7 linked regions of the Homo sapiens genome follow. The protein of the gene in region 1 purifies or fractionates together with the protein of each later gene. This does not show direct contact. Each region holds a gene or a part of one and is shown in the gene's direction. Other genes may lie near its edges. The genes, in order: DEK, SRRM1, DHX15, TSR1, BPTF, PTPN12 and CAPRIN1.

What was found.
Region 2: the proteins of DEK (region 1) and SRRM1 purify together in Homo sapiens (affinity purification with western blotting; 2 studies listed by BioGRID, with this or other methods). This does not show direct contact.
Region 3: the proteins of DEK (region 1) and DHX15 fractionate together in Homo sapiens (co-fractionation; one large-scale study listed by BioGRID). This does not show direct contact.
Region 4: the proteins of DEK (region 1) and TSR1 fractionate together in Homo sapiens (co-fractionation; one large-scale study listed by BioGRID). This does not show direct contact.
Region 5: the proteins of DEK (region 1) and BPTF fractionate together in Homo sapiens (co-fractionation; one large-scale study listed by BioGRID). This does not show direct contact.
Region 6: the proteins of DEK (region 1) and PTPN12 fractionate together in Homo sapiens (co-fractionation; one large-scale study listed by BioGRID). This does not show direct contact.
Region 7: the proteins of DEK (region 1) and CAPRIN1 fractionate together in Homo sapiens (co-fractionation; one large-scale study listed by BioGRID). This does not show direct contact.

What each region holds. Positions count from the first base shown.
Region 1 is NC_000006.12:18,254,531-18,258,030, reverse strand, and holds part of DEK (protein DEK), read left to right. Parts: coding exon 1-78; intron 79-1,575; coding exon 1,576-1,670; intron 1,671-2,179; coding exon 2,180-2,300; intron 2,301-3,500. UniProt on the Homo sapiens protein: Involved in chromatin organization.
Region 2 is NC_000001.11:24,649,802-24,653,301, forward strand, and holds part of SRRM1 (serine/arginine repetitive matrix protein 1), read left to right. Parts: intron 1-169; coding exon 170-285; intron 286-1,607; coding exon 1,608-1,811; intron 1,812-2,632; coding exon 2,633-2,827; intron 2,828-3,111; coding exon 3,112-3,231; intron 3,232-3,500. UniProt on the Homo sapiens protein: Part of pre- and post-splicing multiprotein mRNP complexes. As a component of the minor spliceosome, involved in the splicing of U12-type introns in pre-mRNAs. Involved in numerous pre-mRNA processing events.
Region 3 is NC_000004.12:24,539,555-24,543,054, reverse strand, and holds part of DHX15 (ATP-dependent RNA helicase DHX15), read left to right. Parts: intron 1-28; coding exon 29-115; intron 116-1,032; coding exon 1,033-1,182; intron 1,183-2,106; coding exon 2,107-2,215; intron 2,216-2,755; coding exon 2,756-2,947; intron 2,948-3,500.
Region 4 is NC_000017.11:2,326,458-2,329,957, reverse strand, and holds part of TSR1 (pre-rRNA-processing protein TSR1 homolog), read left to right. Parts: intron 1-482; coding exon 483-615; intron 616-747; exon of another isoform or gene 748-833; intron 834-3,500. UniProt on the Homo sapiens protein: Required during maturation of the 40S ribosomal subunit in the nucleolus.
Region 5 is NC_000017.11:67,944,003-67,947,502, forward strand, and holds part of BPTF (nucleosome-remodeling factor subunit BPTF), read left to right. Parts: intron 1-147; coding exon 148-370; coding exon of another isoform or gene 371-482; intron 483-1,406; coding exon 1,407-2,323; intron 2,324-3,500. UniProt on the Homo sapiens protein: Regulatory subunit of the ATP-dependent NURF-1 and NURF-5 ISWI chromatin remodeling complexes, which form ordered nucleosome arrays on chromatin and facilitate access to DNA during DNA-templated processes such as DNA replication, transcription, and repair.
Region 6 is NC_000007.14:77,599,795-77,603,294, forward strand, and holds part of PTPN12 (tyrosine-protein phosphatase non-receptor type 12), read left to right. Parts: intron 1-869; coding exon 870-1,012; intron 1,013-3,500. UniProt on the Homo sapiens protein: Dephosphorylates a range of proteins, and thereby regulates cellular signaling cascades. Dephosphorylates cellular tyrosine kinases, such as ERBB2 and PTK2B/PYK2, and thereby regulates signaling via ERBB2 and PTK2B/PYK2.
Region 7 is NC_000011.10:34,093,231-34,096,730, forward strand, and holds part of CAPRIN1 (caprin-1), read left to right. Parts: intron 1-3,248; coding exon 3,249-3,443; intron 3,444-3,500. UniProt on the Homo sapiens protein: mRNA-binding protein that acts as a regulator of mRNAs transport, translation and/or stability, and which is involved in neurogenesis, synaptic plasticity in neurons and cell proliferation and migration in multiple cell types.

The sequences.
Region 1 (3,500 bases):
ATACATTTTTTTCTAAGTAAGAAGAAAACCGATGAACTTAGAAATCTACACAAACTGCTTTACAACAGGCCAGGCACTGTAAGACCTTTTTACACTTTAAACCTACTTGTATATTACTTCACAATGGAATCAATTTCTGTAAATGTTAGTGATCCACTAGTTCAATTTCCACACTTTATGACTGAGCAGACTGAGGTATATACTTATTAAATGATTTATCACAGGAAACACAGCTGGATATTAGCACTTGGATTATAATATCCAGGGCTCTGTCTTCTTTTTTCTTTTTCTTTTTCTTTTTTTTTTCTTTCTTTTAAGACACGGTCTCACTTTGTCACCCAGGCTGGAGTACAGTGTGCAATACATGGCTCACTGCAGCCTCAACCTCCTGGGCTCAAGTGTTCCTCCCGCTTAAGCCTCCCAAGTAGCTGGGACCACAGGTGCATGCCACCATACTGTGTCTGGCTAATTGTTTTACTTTTTGTAGAGGCAGGGTTTTGCCATGTGCCCAGGCTGGTCTTGAACTCCTGAGCTCAAGTGGTCCTCCCACCTTGGCCTCCCAAAGTGTTGGGATTACAGGTGTGAGCCAGTATGCCCAGCTCTAGGGCTCTTTCTCCTGTAGTAGTTTTTATTCCAAACTGAAATTTCAAATTACGAAATCCAAATTGTGATGAAAGGTTTTAGTGACCTTTAAATGTATTGAAAGAAATTCATGTTTTTGGATTTTCTCGACATTCAGAATAAGTGAATGTCGGTATGATTTGTATGAGATCATACATATGATCTCATTTGTATCTCATACAAATAAGAGGCAAAATCATTTGTATCTCATACAAATCTCATACAAAGTGAATTTGGTGTAATTGTATCTCATTTTTAGCAAATACCTGATAAATTGGATGATAGTTCTTTGCTAAAGGATTGTTATTATACTGTACATATGACTTAGTATATTATATAATCGAGGGAACTGCTTTAGGTTGTACGTGGGCAAAGTAAAGTTGGGTGTTAGAATGTCTGAAGTAGAATAGAATGTCTGGTGCATGACATAATTTATTTTCAGTGAGTCTGTTAATCTCATTTAATCCTTAAACCAATTTAATTTACACAAGTCCCATAACTAGTGAACGGTATTAGCTTTTTGTGGTACTCGCTATTCTTTACTTTGAAAGAATAAAGTCCTTCTTGATTTGGAAAAGAAGAATTACTAGTAACTTTATTACTTATGAAAAGGATATATTTTTAAATAGTAACTTTCCACATCCCCTGGTACTGTCAGGTAACTTTTGGTTGTGGTAAAAACTCCCCAGTGAAAATTTGTTCAAATTGTTCTTTTCAGAGACTTAAGTTTGTAGGATTTTTATAATGTTAATATGTTAATGACAAATACATTTTTCAGTTTTGAATAAGAAATGTTGAATATTGAACCCATATTGAATTGGTTGACTGTTCAGCCAGTATTGTAACTTACAGACAGGTATGAAAATAAAGATGTTGACTTTGAATTGGCTTTGAATTTATTCTTGTGTACATTACTGGGTAATAAATACCATTAATAATAAGGAACATTTTCAGGTGTCCTCATTAAAGAAGAATGTGGGTCAGTTCAGTGGCTTTCCATTTGAAAAAGGAAGTGTCCAATATAAAAAGAAGGAAGAAATGTTGAAAAAGTAAGTTATTTTTATAAATACTGTATTTTGATCAATATGCTTTAAGTTTATTTTTTAATGTTAAATCACATTCGGGCCAGGCACAGTGGCTCACACCTGTAATCCCAGCACTTTGGGAGGCTGAGGCGGGCGTATCACCTGAGGTCAGGAGTTTGAGACCAGCCTGACCAACATGGAGAAACCCCGTCTCCACTAAAGATACAAAATTAGCCGGCTGTGGTGGCGCATGCCTGTAATCCCAGCTACTTGGGAGGCTGAGGCAGGAGAATCGCTTGAACCTGGGAGGTGGAGGTTGCGGTGAGCCAAGATTGGGCCATTGCACTCCAGCCTGGGCAACAAGAGCGAAACTGTCTCAAAAAAAAAAAAAGAAAAAAGATTCATAGAAGCATTGGCCACTTTTTTAAATGTATGTAACTGAGCCAATTTGGTTGGCTTTCCCTTTATATTGTGGAGAACATATGTAAGCTTTCCTATATTAACACCTTGGTTTCTTCCATTTTCTGTTTCAGATTTAGAAATGCCATGTTAAAGAGCATCTGTGAGGTTCTTGATTTGGAGAGATCAGGTGTAAATAGTGAACTAGTGAAGAGGATCTTGAATTTCTTAATGCATCCAAAGCCTTCTGGCAAAGTGAGGATCAATTTTTATTTTTTTCATAAATCAGTTATTCATAGCCTCTTTATATGAAACAAAAATTGATTAATAACAGCATTGCTGTCAGTATTCGTTCATATCTACATTCAAAGACTATACCTTCTGTTGACGTATCTGCAGTAATTTCCTGATAGAAATAATATAGATGCCATAGGGGTATGTTGCTTCGGAAAATCAGATACAAGGGATATAAGGTTAAGAATAGTGAATTAATGTCAGAAGGGACAGAAAGTACTAGTAGTCAGGGTTAGGTATCTAGAAGACACTGGAAGAATAGGAAGAGGTTGGGCTGAGGATGAGGTGCAAGGCTGGAGGGAAGGGGTGCAACCTGTAATCAAGTGAAGACAAAATAGGGAGTATATTAGAACTGGATGTTTTCCTAGATCCTGGAATAAAGTATTAAAAAGTGACATTTAAAAGCTAACTCTTACAAGTTTCCTATATTGGGTTTCCAGAATCTGCAGCAGAGCCCAGGAGCCAGACAGGGAAGTAAAATGGCCTTACAGTTTTCTCACTCTTCCTAAAAGCTAGTAGGTTTGCCCTAATTATTTAATGGTAACGAATGACATAGGTGACTTAAAATGTCTGTTGAAGTGTTACATGACCTTGCCTTTTTAGTGTGATTTAGGTCTGTCAGCAAATGTTTTTATATTCTTCCCCATCTTGACAGGAAAGGAAGTGTGAGAGATCTAGCAGGCCTAGGAGTTCAGGGGAATGCCATCTCTGATGGGAGATGGCATTAATCAAAACCAGAAAATAGCTCTAGGACTTCGTTTTCGTCCGCCCTTGGTCCTTATTACCATTAGCTGCACGAGGACAGATAAACAGCAGTTAAAGTGTAAACTTTTGTTATACAACTACAAACGCAAGGGGTATGATGATTTTTGGTGTTTTAAATTGGCTTGTTTAAAGACAAAATACTTCTTATTTTCTAACTTTTACTATAGCTATACTTGTACTTTTTAAGGATTTAGTGTGAGGCAAGGTGATCACTATTTCCTCAGAAGCAATTTACTAGGTTGTTATGACAGATATTTTTATATTTATCTTTTTCTCAGTGGTTTTCCAATTTATTGGTTTCAGGATACTGTTGCCCTCTTAAAAAATTAGTGAGGACCCCAAGAGCTTTTTTTAATATGAGTTATTTTGATCTTCACTGTATTTGACATTAGAACT
Region 2 (3,500 bases), on another chromosome or scaffold:
ACCAGTCTTAATGCGTATCTGTAGTGTAGGTGAAGAAAGAACAGGTCTGGTTCAAAAGAAGAGGCCGATGAAATGATAATAGCATTGGTGTTTAACACACGTAGAAAGTAGTCTTCAGTTTGTTCTCAAATGTTCAACTATGTGTATTTTGAAAACCTGGTCTTTGCAGATTGAACAAGAAAAACTGGCATCTATGAAAAAGCAAGATGAAGACAAAGATAAAAGAGATAAGGAAGAAAAAGAAAGCAGCAGAGAAAAAAGGGAGCGGTCTCGTAGCCCAAGAAGGTATCATACAATAGATGCATAACTGATGTTTTACAGGTACTTTAGGTCTTAAGAAACTTCCTTAGTTAAAAAGGAATCTAACAGCGCTATTCAAGGAATTTGTTCCATCATGCAGTTTTCATGGTGACCTGTGCCTTGCCTCTGGACTAAAGAAATCTGTCATATTTTGTTTGAGACAGATAATTTAGCCATGAGTGTCTCGCAGATGTTCATAAATTATCCAACTCTAAATTCCTAAATCAAAACTTTAAACTTTTTCTTCCATATTGCTTTAGTTCATAACAGTTAATTTGGGTTTTTAAAAATGTACTCTGACTCACTTTTTCTTTCCATTTCCTTTCTTCTAAAAAGAAATCTGTACTCGAAATCTGTACTCATTAGCCGTTCATGTAATACTTACCTAATTCCCTGTTCTGCTTTTCTTAGATGGTTGTACTGAACCCAAACTTCAGATCATTTATTTGTTTTCTTCTTCCAGTGAGACTATTGTTAGGTTCACATTTTTAAATCCACGGCTCAGCTTCTATATTTGTGGTGAAAGGTGAGAACTCCATTAGGCTTTTTATTTTTAGGGTTCTGCTTATTTCTTTCATAAATGTCTGCTGGAATTAGTAAAGAGAAGAGGTAATTTCTTTGTCCCTTTCATTTATATATTTGATACTAAAATCTCCTTATGGAAGTAATATTTATAGAGCTAAGCACAAATTGTCATGGTGGTAACTACTTGACTATTGATGAAGTATGTCTGCCATTTTCCTTCTGTGTGAATAAGAGAAAAACCCTTCGAGTTAGGCAGGCTACTGTTAAGAAAGAGGGCTTCTCCTCTCGCAAAAAAGCTATCTTCTGGATGTTTGATGTATATTTCTCTTTTCTGAAGAACATGTTGCTTTAATGGTATTAGTCATTTTTCTGGCATACTGAGGCTCTTCCTGATGAACTCCATTGTAATCTGTCCGCATCTAAATGTTTTATGTTTGGGAGTTTGATTTGTTGTCAAGGATTATCATTGTTTGCTTTAAAGCATCCTCTTTGCCTCTGAAAAGTTGGTCTTTTGATCTCTGGGAATGATTAAGAACCTAAGTCTAGAGTCCCAAGTTAGTGCTTTTCTCCCTTATAACTGATATACTCGAGAATGTTATCTTTCATTTGCTTGTCTTTCTCTTCCCTGTCAAGTAGATTAGGTTAGCATGTCTTATTTCCATAGGGAAACATCTCAGATATAAACAGTAGTGTAACTAAAGATTAATCCTCACTTCTCCCTTTGACTCCTCTCTTCCAATCCATGTTATTTAAAAACCTGAAAAAAATTACTTTCATCCTAGACGCAAATCCAGATCTCCTTCCCCTAGAAGACGATCTTCCCCTGTCAGGAGAGAGAGAAAGCGCAGTCATTCTCGATCTCCCCGTCACAGAACCAAGAGCCGGAGTCCTTCCCCTGCTCCAGAAAAGAAGGAAAAAACTCCAGAGCTCCCAGAACCTTCAGTGAAAGTAAAAGAACCTTCAGTACAAGAGGCTACTTCTACTAGGCAAGTATATAAAAATTCATTTATAAATAATCACAATTTTAGATTAATAGTGACTGCAAATATGACATCTGAGTTAAAATAAAACTACTTATTTTCCTTTTAGATTTTTTAAATTATAAAATTAGTTTGTTGAAAAGAAATTGTTTAGGAGAGTATATTAGAAGAAAATGCCCCAGAGGGTGACCATTACTATCTTTTGGTTGTATTGTTTCAGGTATTTTATATATTGTAACTTGCTTTTTTTCCTCAACGTATTGTGGACAACTTCGCACTTTTAAGAAATGTATGTGGTTGCCAGATGCGGGGGTGCATGCCTGTAATCTCGGCACTTGGGGAGGCTGAGGTGGGTGGATCGCTTGAGCTCACAAGTTAGAGAGCAGCCTGGGGCAACATGGTGAAACTCCATCTGTACTAAAAATATATATATATATATATATATATATATATATATGTACACACACACACACAAATTAGCCGGGCATGGTTGGCACATGCCTATAGTCCCAGCTACTCAGGAGGATCACTTGAGCCTGGGAGGTTGAAGCTGCAGTGAGCCAAAATCATGCCAGTACACTCCAGCCTGAGTGACAAGAGTGAGACCCTGTCTCAGAAGAAGAAAAGAAAATGTACATGGTTGGAATTATTAGTTGCTCTCTGGGTTTCAGTGATAGGTACATACATACTTATGTGTCTTTTGGAGATAGAGACAAGTCTGTGAATTTTGAAAAGTTTTAGAAATACTTTATTACATCATTGTGTAATGATTTAGAAGGCTGAGTACAAGAAGGCAAAAAAAAAAAAAAAAGCTTTTGTTTCCACAGTGACATTCTGAAAGTTCCCAAACCTGAACCTATACCAGAGCCTAAAGAACCTTCTCCGGAAAAAAATTCCAAAAAAGAAAAGGAGAAGGAGAAGACCCGACCACGATCTCGGTCACGCTCCAAATCAAGATCCCGGACGCGGTCCCGCTCTCCTTCTCACACTCGACCTAGACGGCGCCATAGATCCCGATCAAGGTGAGTTGTGGCTTTAAGATCAACAAAGATCTTAGGTTTTATATACTACTCTACTGGGTACAATTAGATAAATAATTTCAAAGTGGTAGAAGATGTTTAGTACAAATATTTTTTGAATGTACACAGAGAATTTGAGGACACTTTTCTGTGTACCATAAAAATCTACATAAATGGAAAATTTTGATCTTTGAAATTTATTTTTTAGATGTGGCCATTGAGAAAACTAAGCCAAGAAATTCCTCACTCCTGGTTTATTCAGGACCTAATTCTCTTTGTTATGGCAGATCGTATTCACCTAGAAGGCGGCCAAGCCCAAGAAGGCGGCCATCTCCTCGAAGAAGAACTCCGCCAAGAAGAATGCCTCCTCCACCAAGGCATAGAAGGAGTAGATCTCCAGTAAGACGGTAAGATTTTTTAAATTTGGAAGTGTCAAGTGTTTGACACTTCTGGATAATCTTTCTTTTAGGATAATCTGTAAATTAGTGTCCCCTGGAAGAAAGAACTGATAGGTGATATTAGACAATGTCTTCTAAAGAGTCTGTTTCATTTGAAGTGTAATGCAGTTGTTCGTGTTATGAAAAGTGTCTAGTCTGGTGTTGGAAAGTAAACGAGAAATTCATCTTATTGATACTTTTCTGTTAACTTTTACCCTTCTAGACTTCACCAAGAAATC
Region 3 (3,500 bases), on another chromosome or scaffold:
ATAATTTATATACTCTATTTCTTAACAGGTAGTTGTGTCAACTAACATAGCAGAGACGTCTTTGACAATAGATGGTGTGGTGTTTGTGATTGATCCTGGATTTGCGAAACAGAAGGTACATATTTAGTGGATACTTTATAAATTAGAGTTGGTTTAACAGTACTTACAACCAATTCATTTAATGGCTAAAATTTACCTTTCAGAATTATTTTCCTATCTTTTTTTTTATTTGCAAATTTCTGCTGTATGAACCCTTTATGTTTTGGCTGGCTCTCAGAAATTAAGACAGTATTTAATATGTAATTCTAGGCTTTTTTTTCTTTTAGAGTTGCTTTGCTTTCTTTGTTTCAGTGTAGTGACGGTGGGTGTTTTGGCTTGTATATTCATTTAACAGTATGGGTTTAGTAATAAAGTACAGGATTTCTATCCCTGCAGTTCAGTCACTTCTCCCAACATTATTAGAGTTACTGCTGTCAACTAGGCACACTATTTGAAAACAGTACTATGTTACTCCTCTAGTTTAACAGTGCTGTATACTAAATGAAGTGAAATGCAGGTGAAGTGGCTATTCAATAAATACGTTTTATTTTTCAAATATCTTTTGGATAAATTGATTACATTTTGTTATTGATGGAAATTTTTTCATTAAACAGTAACAGAGTAATAGTACTCAGACCGTCGAGTTTTGAAAGTGAAGGTTTCTTTTCGGGCAGAATCCTTGACTGCCCAGCATATAAAAAGCAAGGAACAAGGTCAGCCTGATAGAACTGAAATTAGGAGGAGTAAGGATTATATAAGCTGTGTGTTTGACAAGAAGTTTTTCATGTTAGAGTCTTTCAGATGATCGAATTAGAATGTCTGAAAGAACTTTAAGGTTCAGGATGGTGGGTTGTCTATTGTAGCAGCATGATTTATGGCTATCGATATTTCTTTATTTATTTTGGAATTAACTGTGGGCTTTGGATACTTCTGTTGCATCACAATTTTGTGTTTGACTGAAGAAAGACTCTTGTGTTATTTCAATTCCAATAGGTCTACAATCCTCGAATCAGAGTTGAGTCCCTTTTGGTGACAGCTATTAGTAAAGCTTCAGCTCAGCAAAGGGCTGGTCGAGCTGGACGTACCAGACCTGGAAAATGCTTCAGACTTTACACAGAGAAAGCTTATAAAACAGAAATGCAGGTATGGGGTATTGTCGTTTCCTGCCGATATGTTTAAAATGTTAGGTTGAATTATCTTACCAGAAGAACATTGCCTTATTTACTTAATCTTGCCTTTTAGGATTAAAAGCTCCTTAGCTTTTCCAGGAGTGAAATGTATGGTGTAATTAACTTAGATAGTCGTACACCCCCTTATTCCAGGCTGATACATTCCAAGACCCTCCCCCTCCCACGCCTAAAAACTGGAATATGCTGAACCTTACTTACATATACTATGTATAAATATCTTTCTTTACAATTTCACTGATAGAAGATGCATTCTTTCTTTAGATGTGATTTTTTTGCTCTTTTGTTACTAGGTTTCAACTTTTTTTCTTTCCTTACTAACTTTCAGCGTTTCACTTAAAGGAAGCACTTCAGGGCCTCTCATTGGCATATCCAAATTGCCAGCATCAATATTCTTGGCGCTTTGGGGCCATTATTAAGTAAAAGGTTACTTGAGCACAAGCACTGTGATACTGCAAAAGTTGATCTAATAACAGATGGTTGCTAAGTGACAAATGGGTGTATAGTGTATATAGCATACTACTAAGAATGGTGCACAATTTAAACTTGATGAATTTTTTCTGGAATCTTTAAAATTTTTTCTGTTGACACTGCTTAACTGAAACCATGGAAATTGCGAGTTCAGATGAGTGAAGACTACTATACGAATTTCTTTCTGCAGTTGCGAGTTTTATGGACAGTAGCAAACACTGAATACTATAAAGATAGTTGGAGAAAAATGGTTTCTCTCTAGTCTAGCCTACAAGTATTTATCTCTACTGAGACAGTGTAGAAGTAATGCCAAAACAAATAGCTCAGGAGGCAGCAGATTTTTGTTTTCTGGAACGAGGAGACTGAGGCATTTTTAACATAACCAATAAATGTTTTTGTTCTTTGCTAGGATAACACCTATCCTGAGATTTTGCGTTCTAATTTAGGATCAGTTGTGTTACAATTGAAGAAACTTGGTATTGATGACTTGGTACATTTTGATTTTATGGATCCACCAGGTATGACTTATCAAAACACATTTTTATCAGATCTTTTAACCAAAATTGACTCTTAGTGTTTTTCTCCATCCTATTTAATATATGTATTAAATACATTTTGCTTTTTCCATCCAGTATGCATCAAGATTAAGTCTTACATGATAGCATTAAAACTAAAAAAGGTGACAGTTATATGAGCACATTTTTTTTTTTTCTTCAAAAGTTATTATGGGGGGGTTTGGGTAAATTGAATTATCCTCTGGGCATGAAAATGTGAGAATTCCTAAGTTTTCTTTGGGGAAAAACAGTTTGATAAACACATTGATGAATTAGCAATTATTTAATGTATTTCGGAAGAAGACAGTTTTGCCTACAGGAAAATTTTGCAATGTTTTTATGATTCATTGTTTGCTAGATCTGTATAATTGAATTGGATGACAGTTTGAGTTTGAGTTTGGTCCACTGCAAAATGAAAAATGAGATTGCTTATAATAGTTTGTACTTTGTCACATTTTTGCTTGCTTAAGGCACCGTGTCTAATAGATTGTCTTTTACCACTAGCTCCTGAAACTCTGATGAGAGCCCTGGAACTTTTGAATTACCTGGCTGCTTTAAATGATGATGGAGATCTGACTGAATTGGGATCCATGATGGCAGAGTTTCCTCTAGATCCACAGCTCGCAAAAATGGTTATTGCAAGTTGTGACTACAACTGTTCTAATGAGGTCCTATCTATTACTGCTATGTTGTCAGGTAATAGAGGGAAAGGAACAAAAAAAAGCCCAGCTCTTCAAAGTTTGGGTGGACTTCACTTTTGTTTTTGTTTTTTAATTTTTAGTATGATAGTGGATTTTATAGATGGTTTTAAGGAATTAATTTTGTTTTCTAAATACCTTGTAAATAGCTTCGTAATGACATAGTGCTTACAAAAGTAAAGTAAGTCATTGTGCACAAAAGATAAGTAAAGCATTGGCTCTCTTGAGTGCTAATAAAAATTGCAGTAAGTTTGAGCACAGTTGTAACTGAATTCTTTGGTTAAAGGTCCATCACTGCTATCTTTGTGGTTTTTTTGTTTTTTGTTTTTTACTGCAAGTACAGGAAGAACTTTGCTCTAGTACTTAGCTCTATTAAGTGTGCCTGTGACAAACTGAAAGCTATACATTAAGTTGAGCCTTTTCTATATATGTACTCCAATGGCACCCGAACAAACATGAATTTCAAACTTCATATCAAGTAAATAGAAATAGTAATGTATAATTTTAGGCTTAAAATCTAATCTGATAATGGTATTCTTTTACAATGGTAG
Region 4 (3,500 bases), on another chromosome or scaffold:
ACAAGAGCGAAACTCTTATGTCAAAAAAAAAAAAAGTTTATGCCAAAGTGCAGATCTCTTTTCTCTTGGTGGCCAGTAGTTGTGTATGTTGTGGGGTATGTGATAGTTCTTTGATCGGTTTTGGTAAGGGCTCAAGAAGAAGGGGCTTGAATGAGTGTGGTTTTGAGATTGTGGTGAGTGAATGCCTTGAAGGCCACTGATTTTTGTGTGGCAGATGTTGAGCTCTTTTCTGTTAGGTGCAGGAAGGTAGGTTAGCATTGAAGGGTGCATGAAAGCTCTGATCAGCCTGTGTTTGGCTTAAATGCCAGTCATTGGTGGAGGTAAAGGATGAACCCGTGTTTCAGCATCTACACTCCACCATTAATTAGCATTGTCAGTTCTTAGAATGAGTCTGAATCTGCTAGTTTGGTTTGCCTTCTTTCAGTTTAGGCAATTGTATTCCTAGACTATGAAGATTTTTGTTTTTCTTACTTGGTCCCCAGATGTCAGTATTGAATATGGTGGTGAGGCGTGACCCTGGCAACACTGAACCTGTGAAAGCCAAGGAAGAGCTCATATTTCACTGTGGATTCAGGCGCTTCCGAGCCTCACCTTTATTCTCTCAGCACACTGCAGGTTAGCAATGGGGAAGCTGGGTTCTTGTCCATCTTGTCTTTTGGGAAAGTGACTTGTGGTGGAGGGGTGCCAAAATATATGGTTTCAAAATCTTACATCTCTGGGTTAGAGGTATTTTCAGTACTCTGGCTTAAGAGCCAATGATGTTTTTATTCAAAATGTCTGAACCTGTCTGAAGCATCCCAGTGATGCAACTTCTGTGTGATACTGAGGCTTTTTTGCCATGAGTATTTGTTCCATAGCAGGTTTTGAATAGAAGTTGGCAGCTTTATAAAAAGGGTATTAGGGTGGGTGCAGTGGTGCAGTGGTTCACACCTGTAATCCCAACACTTGTGGCATTAGAACGGGGAATTGAAGACCAAAAAAGGTAAGATTTAATCTTGTTTTTGTTTCTGTTTTTTTTTTTTTTTTTTTTTTTTTTTTGAGACGGAGTCTCACTCTGTCGCCCAGGCTGGAGTGCAGTGGCGCGATCTAGGCTCACTGCAAGCTCCGCCTCTCAGGTTTACTTACACCATTTTCCTGCCTCAGCCTCCCAAGTAGCTGGGACTACAGGCGCCCGCCACCATGCCCAGCTAATTTTTTGTATTTTTAGTAGAGACGGGGTTTCACCGTGTTAGCCAGGATGGTCTCTATCTCCTGACCTCGTGAGCCGCCCGCCTCAGCCTCCCAAAGTGCTGGGATTACAGGTGTGAGCCACCGCGCCCCCTCTTGTTTTTTTTGTTTTTTTTTGTTTGTTTGTTTGTTTGTTTTTTTGGAGACGGAGTCTTACTCCGTTGCCCAGGCTGGAGTGCAATAGCGTGATCTCGGCTCACTGCAACCTCCGCCTCCCGGGTTCAAGCAATTCTCCTGCCTCAGCCTCCCGAGTAGAGTAGTTGGGACTACAGGCATGCACGACCATGCCCAGCTAATTTTTGTATTTTTAGTAGAGATGGGGTTTCACCATGTTGGGGTTTAGTAGAGATGGGGTTTCACCAAGACCAGGAGTTCAGGCTGGTTTTGAACTCCTGGTCTCAGGTGATCCGCCCACCTCGGTCTCCCAAAGTGCTGGGATTACAGACATGAGCCAATGTGCCTGGCCTCTTTTTTTTTTTTTTTTTTTTTGAGACCGAGTCTCACTCTGATGCTCAACTGGAGTGCAATGGTGCAATCCAGGCTCACTGCAACCTCTGCCTTCCAGGTTCAATCAGTTTTCCTGCCTCAGCTTCCCGAGTAGCTGAGATTACAGGCACCCGCCACCACGCCTAGCTAATTTTTGTATTTTTAGTAGAGACGGGGTTTCACCATGCTGGCCAGGCTGGTCTCGACCTTAGGCGATCCTCCTGCCTTGGCCTTCCAAAGTGCTGGGATTACAGGCGTGAGCCACTGCGCCTGGCCAGTCATTCTTTTATTGTTTCAAAATGGTTTTGATTTTTTTTTTTAGGATGAACTATTTTCATATTTTATACAGTTGGGAAAATAAGGAATAATGTAAAAGTAAAATTACCTTATATTAGAGAAAATTCATTTTTATTTTATACATTTTCATCCAGATCTCATTTTTTTTCTTTACACAATTTGGATTGTAATTGTAAATATGGTGTTAAACATTGCATTTATCACTTAATTGATTTTGATCAATTTTCCATAAGATTAATTAGTTAATGAGACTTTTAATGCTTTATTGTCATTTGGATATATTCCAGTGTATGTGATGTACTGATACTTATTTGAGCTTCTACGGGTGAGCACTTAGGCTATTTCTAATGTTTTGCTCTAAACTAGATCTGTATGCATAAAACTTTATTTACTTCTTTGCTTATTTTGTAAAGGCAGATCCTTAGAACTGGAACTAAATAAAAGTCTCAGTTGCAGAGACTGAGGCAGGAGGATCGCTTGAGGTCAGGAGTGTGAGACTCCGGTCTCTACAATTTTTTTTTTTTTTTTTTTGATATAGAGTCCAACTCTGTCACCAAGGCTGGAGTGCAGTAACATGATCTCAGCTCATTGCAGCCTCCCCGTCCCAGGTTCAAGTGATTCTGGCGCCTCAGCCTCCCAAGTAGCTCGGACCATAGGTGTCTGCCACCACGCCCAGCTACTTTTTGTATTTTTAGTAGAGATGGGGTTTCACCAAGTTGGCCAGTCTGTTCTCAAACTCTTGACCTCAGGTGATCCACGTGCCTTGGCCTCCCAAAGTGCTGGGATTTATAGGGATGAGCCAACATGCCCGGCCTCTACGAAAAAAAAATTTTTTTTTTTGGGAGATGGAGTTTCACTCTTGTTGCCCAGGCTGGAGTGCAGTGGCAGGATCTTGGCTCACTGCAACCTCTGCCTCCTAGGTTCAAGTGATTCTCCTGCCTCAGCCTCCCAAGCAGCTGGGATTACAGGCGTGTACCACCATGCCTAGCTAATTTTTCTATTATTAGTAGAGATAGAGTTTCACCATCTTGGCCAGGCTGGTCTCAAACTCCCGACCTCAGGTGATCCACCCGCATTGGCCTCCCAAAGTGCTGGGATTACAGGCATGAGCCACTGCGCCCGGCCAAAAATTTTTCTTTTTAATTAGCCAGGTGTGGTGGCATGTGCTTTGCAGTCCCAGCTACTTGGGAGGCTGAGGCAAGAGGGATTGCCTGAGCCAGTGGGCCCAGGAGTTTGAGGCTCCAGTGAGCTGTGTTCACACCACAGCCCTTAAAATATTTTATTTTCCTATAAGTTTAGTATTTTTAAAAGGGGGGTGAGGGCTACATTGAAGGTAGAACACCAAATACAGTCTAGCCTAGATAGCAGAGTGAGACACTGTCTCTCAGAATTTAAAAGGGTGTGATAAAGTGTGGAAACTTTGATGTCTAGTGTGCCAAGGGCAGTGTGGGTGAAGGAATGGAGGCTGGGTATGGCTCATAGTTGGGTAA
Region 5 (3,500 bases), on another chromosome or scaffold:
TAGCTTATCTAAATTCCTGCTGGTGACATTCAAATATGTATTTTCATTATATTAAAAGATAATTACACATAAAAATGATTTAATAAAAATGATATACATACAGATTGATGCTTTGAACACTGTTTACATGTTGTGTTTTTTCCACAGGGTGGCAATCAAGGTTTGACAGTAGTAATTCAAGGACAAGGTCAAACTACTGGACAGTTGCAGTTGATACCTCAAGGGGTGACTGTACTCCCAGGCCCAGGCCAGCAGCTAATGCAAGCTGCAATGCCAAATGGTACTGTTCAGCGATTCCTCTTTACCCCATTGGCAACAACAGCCACCACAGCCAGCACCACCACCACCACTGTTTCCACGACAGCAGCAGGTAGAGCTGTGGGTTTATCGGAAATGTCGGATGTTACTACTACACGTGGCTGGGCTAACAGAGGCCAACAGGAGAACCAGTATTTACCTTTGGAAGGATATGCCTCAAGCCAGTGACCTCAACAGTTGACATAGTCAGCCTCACAACGTCTCGAAGCTTTTGTACCCTATTCTTACAGACTCCCTGTTACCACCACCCTCTCCCTCCTATTAAAAAAGAGAGAGAGAGAAAGGGGGCAAAAATAATGGTTATCTTGGTAACTATGCCCACACTTACTCCTTGCTAAGCCTTGTAGGTGCTGATTCAGTCATGGAGGTGATCTCAGGGAGGGTGGGTAAATCCAGTTCATGACCTCAGATTGAGAGTGGGTCCAGAACCACTTTGTTGACCTTCTGCTGCAAGTCATTGTAACTAACTACCACCACATCATGGGAGAAAAGTGAAGCGTGGCAATTAGCCTGGGCCAGATGACCCAGCTGATTTCCAGAGGCTGCAACTTACTTTGGAAACCAGCCCTCTAGAGTTAGGAGAGTGTACAGGGGACAGCCAAGAAGCAGGGCCCAGGCTTCCCAGTTTCAGAGCGTCCTGCCCTAAGCGTGTCCAAATGGAGCATTTCAAAGGCATAGACCTTCTGTACCAAAATACAAAATTCTCAACTTTATTTACTTTATTTATTTTTTCGAGACAGGGTCTTGCTCTGTCGCCCAGGCTGAAGCGAAGTAGCACCATTACTGCTTACTGTAGCCTTGAACTCCTGGACGCAAGCAATCCTCCCACCTCAGCCTCCCACGTAGCTTGGACCATAGCCATGCTCCACTATGCTCAGATAATTTTTTATTTTTTTTGTTTTTGTGTAGAGACGGGGTCTCACTATGTTGCTCAAACGATCCTCCCACCTCAACGTCCCAAGGTGCACAGGTGTGAGCCACCACGCCTGGCCAGAATTCTCAACTTCAGAAGATTTCCTTCAGATTCTTCTTTAACCACAGTTTTATGTTCCAGAGTAATAGAAATGGTTCATCTTTCCTTTTTACAGGTACAGGTGAACAAAGGCAGAGTAAACTGTCACCCCAGATGCAGGTACATCAAGACAAAACCCTGCCACCAGCTCAGTCATCAAGTGTGGGTCCAGCAGAAGCCCAGCCACAGACTGCTCAGCCTTCAGCTCAGCCCCAGCCCCAAACCCAGCCCCAGTCCCCAGCTCAGCCTGAAGTTCAGACTCAGCCTGAAGTTCAGACCCAAACAACTGTTTCATCCCATGTCCCTTCTGAAGCACAACCCACCCACGCACAGTCATCCAAGCCCCAAGTTGCAGCACAGTCTCAGCCTCAAAGTAATGTCCAAGGACAGTCTCCTGTTCGTGTCCAAAGTCCATCACAGACTCGAATACGTCCATCAACTCCATCCCAACTGTCTCCTGGACAACAATCCCAGGTTCAGACTACAACCTCACAACCGATTCCAATTCAACCACATACATCTCTTCAGATACCTTCCCAAGGCCAGCCACAGTCACAACCCCAGGTACAGTCTTCAACTCAAACTCTTTCATCAGGACAAACTTTAAATCAAGTTACTGTTTCATCCCCATCCCGTCCTCAGCTACAAATACAGCAGCCACAGCCCCAAGTCATTGCTGTGCCTCAGCTGCAACAACAAGTCCAGGTTCTCTCTCAGATCCAGTCACAGGTTGTGGCTCAGATACAGGCTCAGCAAAGTGGTGTGCCCCAGCAAATCAAACTCCAGTTACCTATCCAAATTCAGCAAAGCAGTGCTGTGCAGACTCACCAGATTCAGAATGTGGTTACAGTGCAGGCAGCCAGTGTGCAAGAGCAGTTGCAAAGGGTTCAGCAACTCAGGGATCAGCAGCAAAAGAAGAAACAGCAACAGATAGAAATTAAGCGTGAACACACCCTCCAAGCTTCTAATCAAAGTGAAATCATTCAGAAACAGGTAAAGTTATTAAGTAAAAGCAGCATGTTCAGTAGCTTGAATTATTGTGCTGTGCAGTAGAATTAGTGTTTGGTTGTGTTAGGTTTCCTAAATGAGACAAAGTCATTAATGTTTAAATTTAGAAGAAACACTGAATTGACCAAAAAAAATACTGAATGACTACTGTGGTGTGGAACACTTCGTTAGATACATATAATATATAGTCAGTGCTTATTAGGAATGACCTGTATTTTGGGAGGACTAAGATGGGAAGAATGGAGTTATGAGCTTTAATCTTTAATATAAAACTTGAGGGTTTAACTAAGTTTTAAAGCCACTTCAGACATTATAGCAATTCCTTTAAAGTTATTGAAAGTTGTCATTCCTTAGTTTGCATGTAGACTATGCAAATTATAGACAGATTAAACTCATTTGCATTTCTAGCCACACCTTTGTAAAAAAGTTTTTGAAAACATATTATTTCATAGCTTAAGTAAAAAGTGGCATCATCCAGCAACATCTTGCAATGGCACATTAGTGAAATAAAGCAATTTAGATGAGTTAGAATTAGTCTACTAAAGTGAAGTCACACATATAACATCTGATAACATTACTGGCAGAAACCATCTTTTCATCTACCTATAGCTTGCTTCGCTCAGCACTAGGCAGGAGTTTGAATGTGGATTTTAAGTGTTACCAAGTTGTGAGACCTTCATTCAGTTCCTAGGTCTCCCATTCACAGTCCGTGAAACTCACTTATCCCTCCTTAGCTATAGCCTCTTAAAACCCTTCTCTTTCCAGCCACATGAGATTATTGCAATGATTAAATGAGGTCATAAATGTAGAAGCACTTTTTACACAGCGAAGTTATTTTAAAGATGTAGTATTCTTATGAAAATGACGGTCATATATATTATATTTAAATGTATTATTACCCAGCTTTACTGTGTATCTATAAACTGAGAATTACTACACTGTCTGTCTATCCGCTAATCTTTGTATAGGGGAGACGAGGGACAGTTCTTTAAAATTCATTCCTGGGAAGAAAGCATAATGTTAAAAATACGGCCTTTGGAGAAGGATAGCCAGGTTAAAATTTCAGCTGTATTACTTACTGTTTGTCAAACAAGGTGGTTAATTTCTTTATGTCTCAGTATCTTGTTTATAAAATTATTGCTATGGTTCAGTGTTGTTGTAA
Region 6 (3,500 bases), on another chromosome or scaffold:
GTATGGTTTGCTTAGATTCCGAGTATTGCTCTTTCTGTTAAACACCTGCAATAACCATTCTCAAAACATTTGACATCAGTACTCCTTTACATTCTTCAAAGTTATTGAGGATCCCAAAGTTTTTGTTTCTGGGGGTTGTATCTTTCAGTATATACTATATTTGAAATTAAAACTGAGAAATTTTTAAAAAACATGAATACATAAGCATATATTGTATTGGCTGTTAAAGAATAAGGCACGTAACATTTTAGTATTATTCTGAGAATTATTTAAAGCTCATAGACTCCCTCAAAAGGGTTGAGGGGAGGGGGTACCCAGACCGTATATTGAGAACCACTAATCTGTAAGAAGACTAGTGAGTTTGGCATTGGACAAATTCATCTCTCCATTCTTTTTCAGTTTAATGTTCTGTTAGTCTTCTGATTACAATGAATACTACTCTAACCTACTCTAACATGGTGCTTACGGTATATTGCTCATCCATTTAATAGTGTAGATTAGTTAAATAGTATATATAGTGTTATGTTTACAGTACATGCTCTGGAAGTAGAACTGCCTGGTTTAGAGCCCACACTTGTCACTTCTTAGGAAAGTTTGGGCAAGTTATTTTATCTGTATATCTCAGTTATAAAATGAGGATGGTATTAACAGTACTTTCCTCATGGAAATTAAATTGTTACATGTGAAGCCCTTAGGTATTTGGCATGTGTTTAACAGTCAATAAGTGTTGGCTATTATTTATTTGGGTTTTTTTAAAAGCAGTGCTAAATGCCACACAAATTTCTTAGAAATGGCAGTTTAAATGAGCTGTGCAACTTTAAACTTTGCAAAGTATTTTCATAATTGTTGACTTTCTGTTTTTCTTGAAGGAATCTCGTAGGCTGTATCAGTTTCATTATGTGAACTGGCCAGACCATGATGTTCCTTCATCATTTGATTCTATTCTGGACATGATAAGCTTAATGAGGAAATATCAAGAACATGAAGATGTTCCTATTTGTATTCATTGCAGGTACAAAAGAATTTCCCAAGTTTATAAATACATTATTTAAGTTTGATGTTACACAAGGTTTTATTTCTGCATTAATATGTTAGTAATCTTGAATTTCTCCTAGCCTTGATACAATGTTTGGGACTAGGGCCTTGTAAGTTGATGTGGTCTCATTTGGTTGACAGACCGTTTAGAGTATTGTTGCATTAAAACACAGGATCATCTATTTGAAAATAGTATTCACATGGTGGGAAGCTATAGAACATACTCTTTTTACTGTTCACTGATTAGAGCATATAATCTCAGATCCTCATCATACTCTACTTTCTAAAGTCAGTATGGTAGTATTTTCTTTTAATCAATTTCCCTGAAACAATGACCAAGCAATTTTCATTCCTGATAAACACTGACATGAGATTTTTAAAAACAGGATATTGCTCTGATGCCCAGGTTGGAGTGCAGTGGCACAATCATAGCTTACTGTAAACTCAAACTCCTGGCCTGACGTGATCCTTCTGCCTCAGCTTCCCAAGTAGCTAGGACTACAGGCATGTGCTACCACACTGAACTAATTTTTTTTAATTAAAAAAAATTTTTTTTAAGAGACCAAGTCTTGCTCTGTTGCCCAGGCTGATCCGAACTCCTGTCCTCAAGTGATTCTCCCACTTTGCTCTCCCAGAGTCTTGGGCTTACAGGCGTGAGCCACTACGCCTGGCAACATGACTTTCTTTTTTTAATATATGTAAGATGTACATACGTAGGTCTTATTGATCTAAGATATCATCAATTCTAAGACACACCATTATTATATATATTAACAGTAAAAAAATCACTGCCAATTATAAGGGGACAATGTCATTTGTAAGAAGCCATTGGTGGTAAGATACATACCAATCTCAGAGCTGTTACATTGAGATGAAAAAGTGTGTTTTAGTTTGATGAAAAACTAAATGCTGTTTTTATTCTTGGGGAACATCAGTTTCCACGTTTGCACCACTTCCTGTCATATCATGAAATTTTATAATTTATAGCTACTGAAAAATTTAAAGCCGGAAGCAAGCATTCTTGTAGTAAAGTAATAAAAACTATTGATACACATTTACTAGACATTTTTATTATGTTTTATAGTAGATTACTTCATTATAAGGATTACATAAAATTCAATGATTACTGACCTAGTTAAGCTACCTCTGAATGTGAAAGGACAAGTATAGGTGCACCTACTTTAAATTGCACAATATAAATCTTTTCATTTATTCAAATAATATTTGAAGTTCAGTTAGGTTTTGCAAAATTACTCGTTTGGATGTGTTAAGAAATCATGTAAACTCTTCCTTTGACTTTGGGGGAATGAACATGAGATTTGTTTATTCTTGGGGGGCAGTTAATTTTGTATTCTAGAAGGGGGGTTAATGTATAATATATTTTAGCTAAGAGAAATCAGTTTAAGATAACCAACTTTTCTTAATCTAACATTTTGGCTTATTTCTGTCATCTGGTCATTCTCATACAAATAATACAAAGCTAAATATACATAATACATATGCACATATATGTATATGTATACATTATATGTAATACATAAAACAAAGCTAAATTTGTATTATGGATTTAGGAGTGTAATGGAAAATACCCCTTTAAGAGGAAAAGCACAAAACTGAATTAGTCAAGAAAATAATAAATGTTTGCAATAAGTGTCATGACCGGGTATAGTGGCTCAGTGCTTTGGGAGGCCGAGGCAGGATGATTGCTTGAGCCCAGAACTTTGAGGCTGCAGTAGACACCAATTACACTACTGCACTCCAGCCTGGGTGACATAGTAGACCCTATCTTTTAAAAAAAAAAAAAGAATATAGGTATCATTATAATATGGGTGATACAGGATATTTTGAAACCTAATTTTTGGAATTTCATTATATAGGTATGGGTTTCTACATAGTAGAAGCTACTTGAATCCTTAGACAGTTTTTCTACTCTGAATTTTTAGTTTACATTAGATTCTTCTAAAGGCCTTACAGTCATAGTACTTACTTCATAAGACTGCTATCAATTTATTCCTCTAAGGGACTTGTTATCTGCATTCACATTTGTTATAAAAAGTAAATGAGATTTTTCAAACTTAAGAGATTTATTTTTTATTATTTACATAGTTAAAATATTTTTTCAGTGGAGTTGAAGCATTGAAGATAGTTTTCTTATTCACTTGGTTTGACCGTAATGCTCATAATTAACGAAGTAAAAGGGCTACTTTTTATTCATGGGCCAGGAAAGTAACTTGCTGGTGGAGATGTGGGAATCAGTTAACAACTTGGTTCATTAAAACTATTTTTTTCTGTGGTTAATTCAGTGGTTAGTTGACCATTTAATTAAGTAGGATTGACCAGTTAAAAATAAACAATATGTTTAATTATAGAATTAAAAGATAAAGAAATTGCTTTCACTTTGACTTCTTATAAGTTAGTTAAAATAATTTCCTGTTCAATCATAAATCCATTTGTATAGGAAGGCT
Region 7 (3,500 bases), on another chromosome or scaffold:
TGTTGCCCAGGTTGGAGTGCAGTGGTGTAATCAGATACTGGAGCCTTTAACTCTGGGGCTCAAATCCTGTACTGGAGCCTTTAACTCCCCACAAGTAGCTTGGACTGCAGGCTTTTCTCAAACTCAGGGCCTCCAGCAGTCCTCCCACCTCTACCTTATAGGCATGAGCCACCATGATGTCTTCTTTAGTTCTTTAATTCCTCAGAATTTAATTGGAATCCCACAACAAACCAGCAGTCAGAGGAGTTAATACTTTCATTTTGTCAGCCCGATTTTGAAAAGTTGTAAAATTTTCTAATTATTCAATTTCTTGGTAAACTTGGATCAGCATTAGATTTTTCAGTAGTAAATTCTTACACATCCTGTAGTATTCAGTATCACTAATATGAAGCTCGAATCTTCCATACTCTGATAGAAGTTATCAGTTATACTATGCTCAGCTTCCAAATGATAAAAACTAGTGGTGTGATCACCATGGCTCACTGTAACCTCTGCTTCTGGGTTCAAGGGATCCTCCTACCTCAGTCTCCCAAGTAGCACAGGCCACCATGCCTGGCTAATTTTTTTTTTTTTTGTATTTTTAGTAGAGAGAGGGTTTCACCATATTGTCCAGGCTGGTCTCGAACACCAGTCACATACGCAGCAAGTTCTCTTTAATCTCAGGGCCTTCATACTTACTTTCCTTCTTGCCGAAAACTTTCTCCCACTGATAAGTACATGGATTGCTTTTTCTATTTTTTTAAAAAAAGTTCATTTGTTTATTTTTAATTGAGAAGTAGAAACTATATATATGTGTATTTATGGTATACAGCATGATGTGTTGAAATGTGTGTCCGTTGTGGGCGGGCTTCATGGCTGGCACCTATAATCCCAGCTACATTTGAGGCTGAGGTGGCAGGATTGCTTGAGGCCAGGCGTTCATGATGAAATAATATGTATACATTGTGGGCCGTTGTCCAGTGCAGTGATGCAGTCTCGGCTCACTGCAACCTCCGCCTCTTAGGTTCAATCGCTTGGGTTCAAGCGATTCTCCTGCCTCGGCCTCCTGCCTCAGGCCTCAGGTGATCCACCCGCCTCGGCCTTCCAAAGTGCTGGGATTACAGGCGTGAGCCACCATTCCCGGCCTGATATTTGTTGAAGAAATCATTTCAGTATGTCCCATCATTTTAGAAATTTTATTTTGAATTAGTGTCTAATCAGGAACAACATGACAGAATCTTTGGCTTTTTAAAATGGCCTACAAGTTTATACTTTACCAAAATTTAAGTAGGAATTTGGGTATTTTAAAATAAAATGAAGGCTGGGTGTGGTGGCTCACGCCTGTAATCCCAGCTCTTTGGGAGGCCCACTTGAGACCAGGAGTTTGAGACCAGCCTGGGCAACACAGAGCCCCACCTCTATAAAATAAATACAGAAATTAGCAGGGTGAGGTGGTGAATGCCTGTAGTTGTAGCTACTCAGGAGGCTAAGGCCGGAGGATCACTTGAGCCCAGGAGTTCAAGGTTGCAGTGAGCCAAGATTATTTGACTGAACTCCAACCTCAGCAGTACTGGGTGAGAGAGCTAGACCTTGTCTTAAAAGTGAAAATTAAATAAAATAAAGATCACACTTAAGTTATTATGCTGTGAGTTTCTTCCTTTCTTTCCTTTCCTTTTTCCTTTCATTTTTTGAGACAGAGTCTTGCTCTTGTCTCCCAGGCTGGAGTGCAGTGGTACGATCTCGGCTCACTACAACTTCTTCCTTCCAGGCTTAAGCCATCCTCTCACCTCAGCCTCCCAAGTAGCTGGGACCACAGGCATGCACCACCATGCCTGGCTAATTTTTTGTATTTTGTTGTTGTTGTTGTTGTTGAGATGGGGTCTCACTGTGTTGCCCAGCTGGTCTCAAACTCCTGAGCTCAAGTAATCTGCTCAGCTTGGCCTCCCAAAGTGCTGGGATTACCAGTGTGAGCCACTACACCCAGCCTGGCTATGAATTTCTTACAGTGAGATTTGATCAAGATTAAAAGCTGTTATTGATAAAATGATTCTAAAATTCAGTTCTTTTGGCTACTTTGTACATGGATACACATGAACCATTTTACAAGGAAAATGTTATGTGTATTTGTCATTCACTTACAATTTTAAATTTTGGGAATATAATAAAAGGCAATCTATGTAAAAAGATGACACCGATGTAGTTGGTTTACTAAGTAATTCAAGAGGAGCAGTGGCTCTCTCTTTTTCTCTAGGTATTCCCTAGTGCTTTCATCGTAAAATAGGATTCTAACAACTATTAATGTATTTGGAGTTTCTTAAGGGTGTAAAATAGGTCAAGTAAAGATTTTCAAGAGTCATACAGCTGCTTTTCTCTCTGCCCCAAAAGGGGAGATTTGGGTTGGCCAGCAGCTTCTGACCCTTGTTGTTAGTGTGTGGGCCTTCCTTTGTTCTGTTGCCTTCCTCACCTCCCAAAGGTACTTTTAGCACCCTATTTTTTTCTCCTCTTTGAATTATAAACATTGTTCTGTAGTATTGAATTTTTGAAAATTTCTAGATTCTAGAACTCTGTCCATTGTGGATGGAGCTTGTATATATGTTAGTGTGTACCTTAGTCTAGAACCTTCAAGTGGGTTGAGTGCCAATGTGAGTACCATGTGATTGTTTTCTAAATTGGCTATACTTGCCATTTTAAATACTTTGAAATGGAATTTGGCATTAAGGGCTACAAGTCGAAGGCCTCTGCTGATTAAACTATGTAGTTGATGACATATTCTACCATCTAGCTGCTTAAATATGAGAGAGTGGTTTTGTATGTTTTACTAAGTAAAAAAAAGGATATTTAAAAGAATAAGAAAACTTCTACCACTAAGGAGCTTTATAATGAAAAGAAGTAATTAAATGGTACAAAATGGTAATGTACTAAGAGTAAATCTTTTGAGTTATTTTGGGTCTCTTGTGCTAAAAAGTAGATGCCTTTCAGAAGACGTTAATATAGCCTTTCAAATAATTTGTTTGGAAGGATCAATCATGCACCCTGCTTTCAAAGGTTTGGAATTGTGGTTGGAGAATTTTACCCCCAATAGCTGAGTCTAAGGGTAGGAGAAAGGTAAGAGACTTTATTCATGTGTAGTTTTTCTTATCATTGTATGCAAATTTAAGGATTAAACTTTAAGGAGACTGTATAAGACACTTCTTAAACTAGAAAGTGCGTGGGAGAACAAACGGTAATGAGCTGTTTATGTATATATCTTTTTCTTTTTTAAATTATAGTGGTTGGCACTTACCATGGTTCCCCAGACCAGTCCCATCAAGTGACTGGTAACCACCAGCAGCCTCCTCAGCAGAACACTGGATTTCCACGTAGCAATCAGCCCTATTACAATAGTCGTGGTGTGTCTCGTGGAGGCTCCCGTGGTGCTAGAGGCTTGATGAATGGATACCGGGGCCCTGCCAATGGATTCAGAGGTAAAAAAATAAAAAAGGAGGTTCTAATGACCTTTTACTAGTTCAAATTATTTTTTG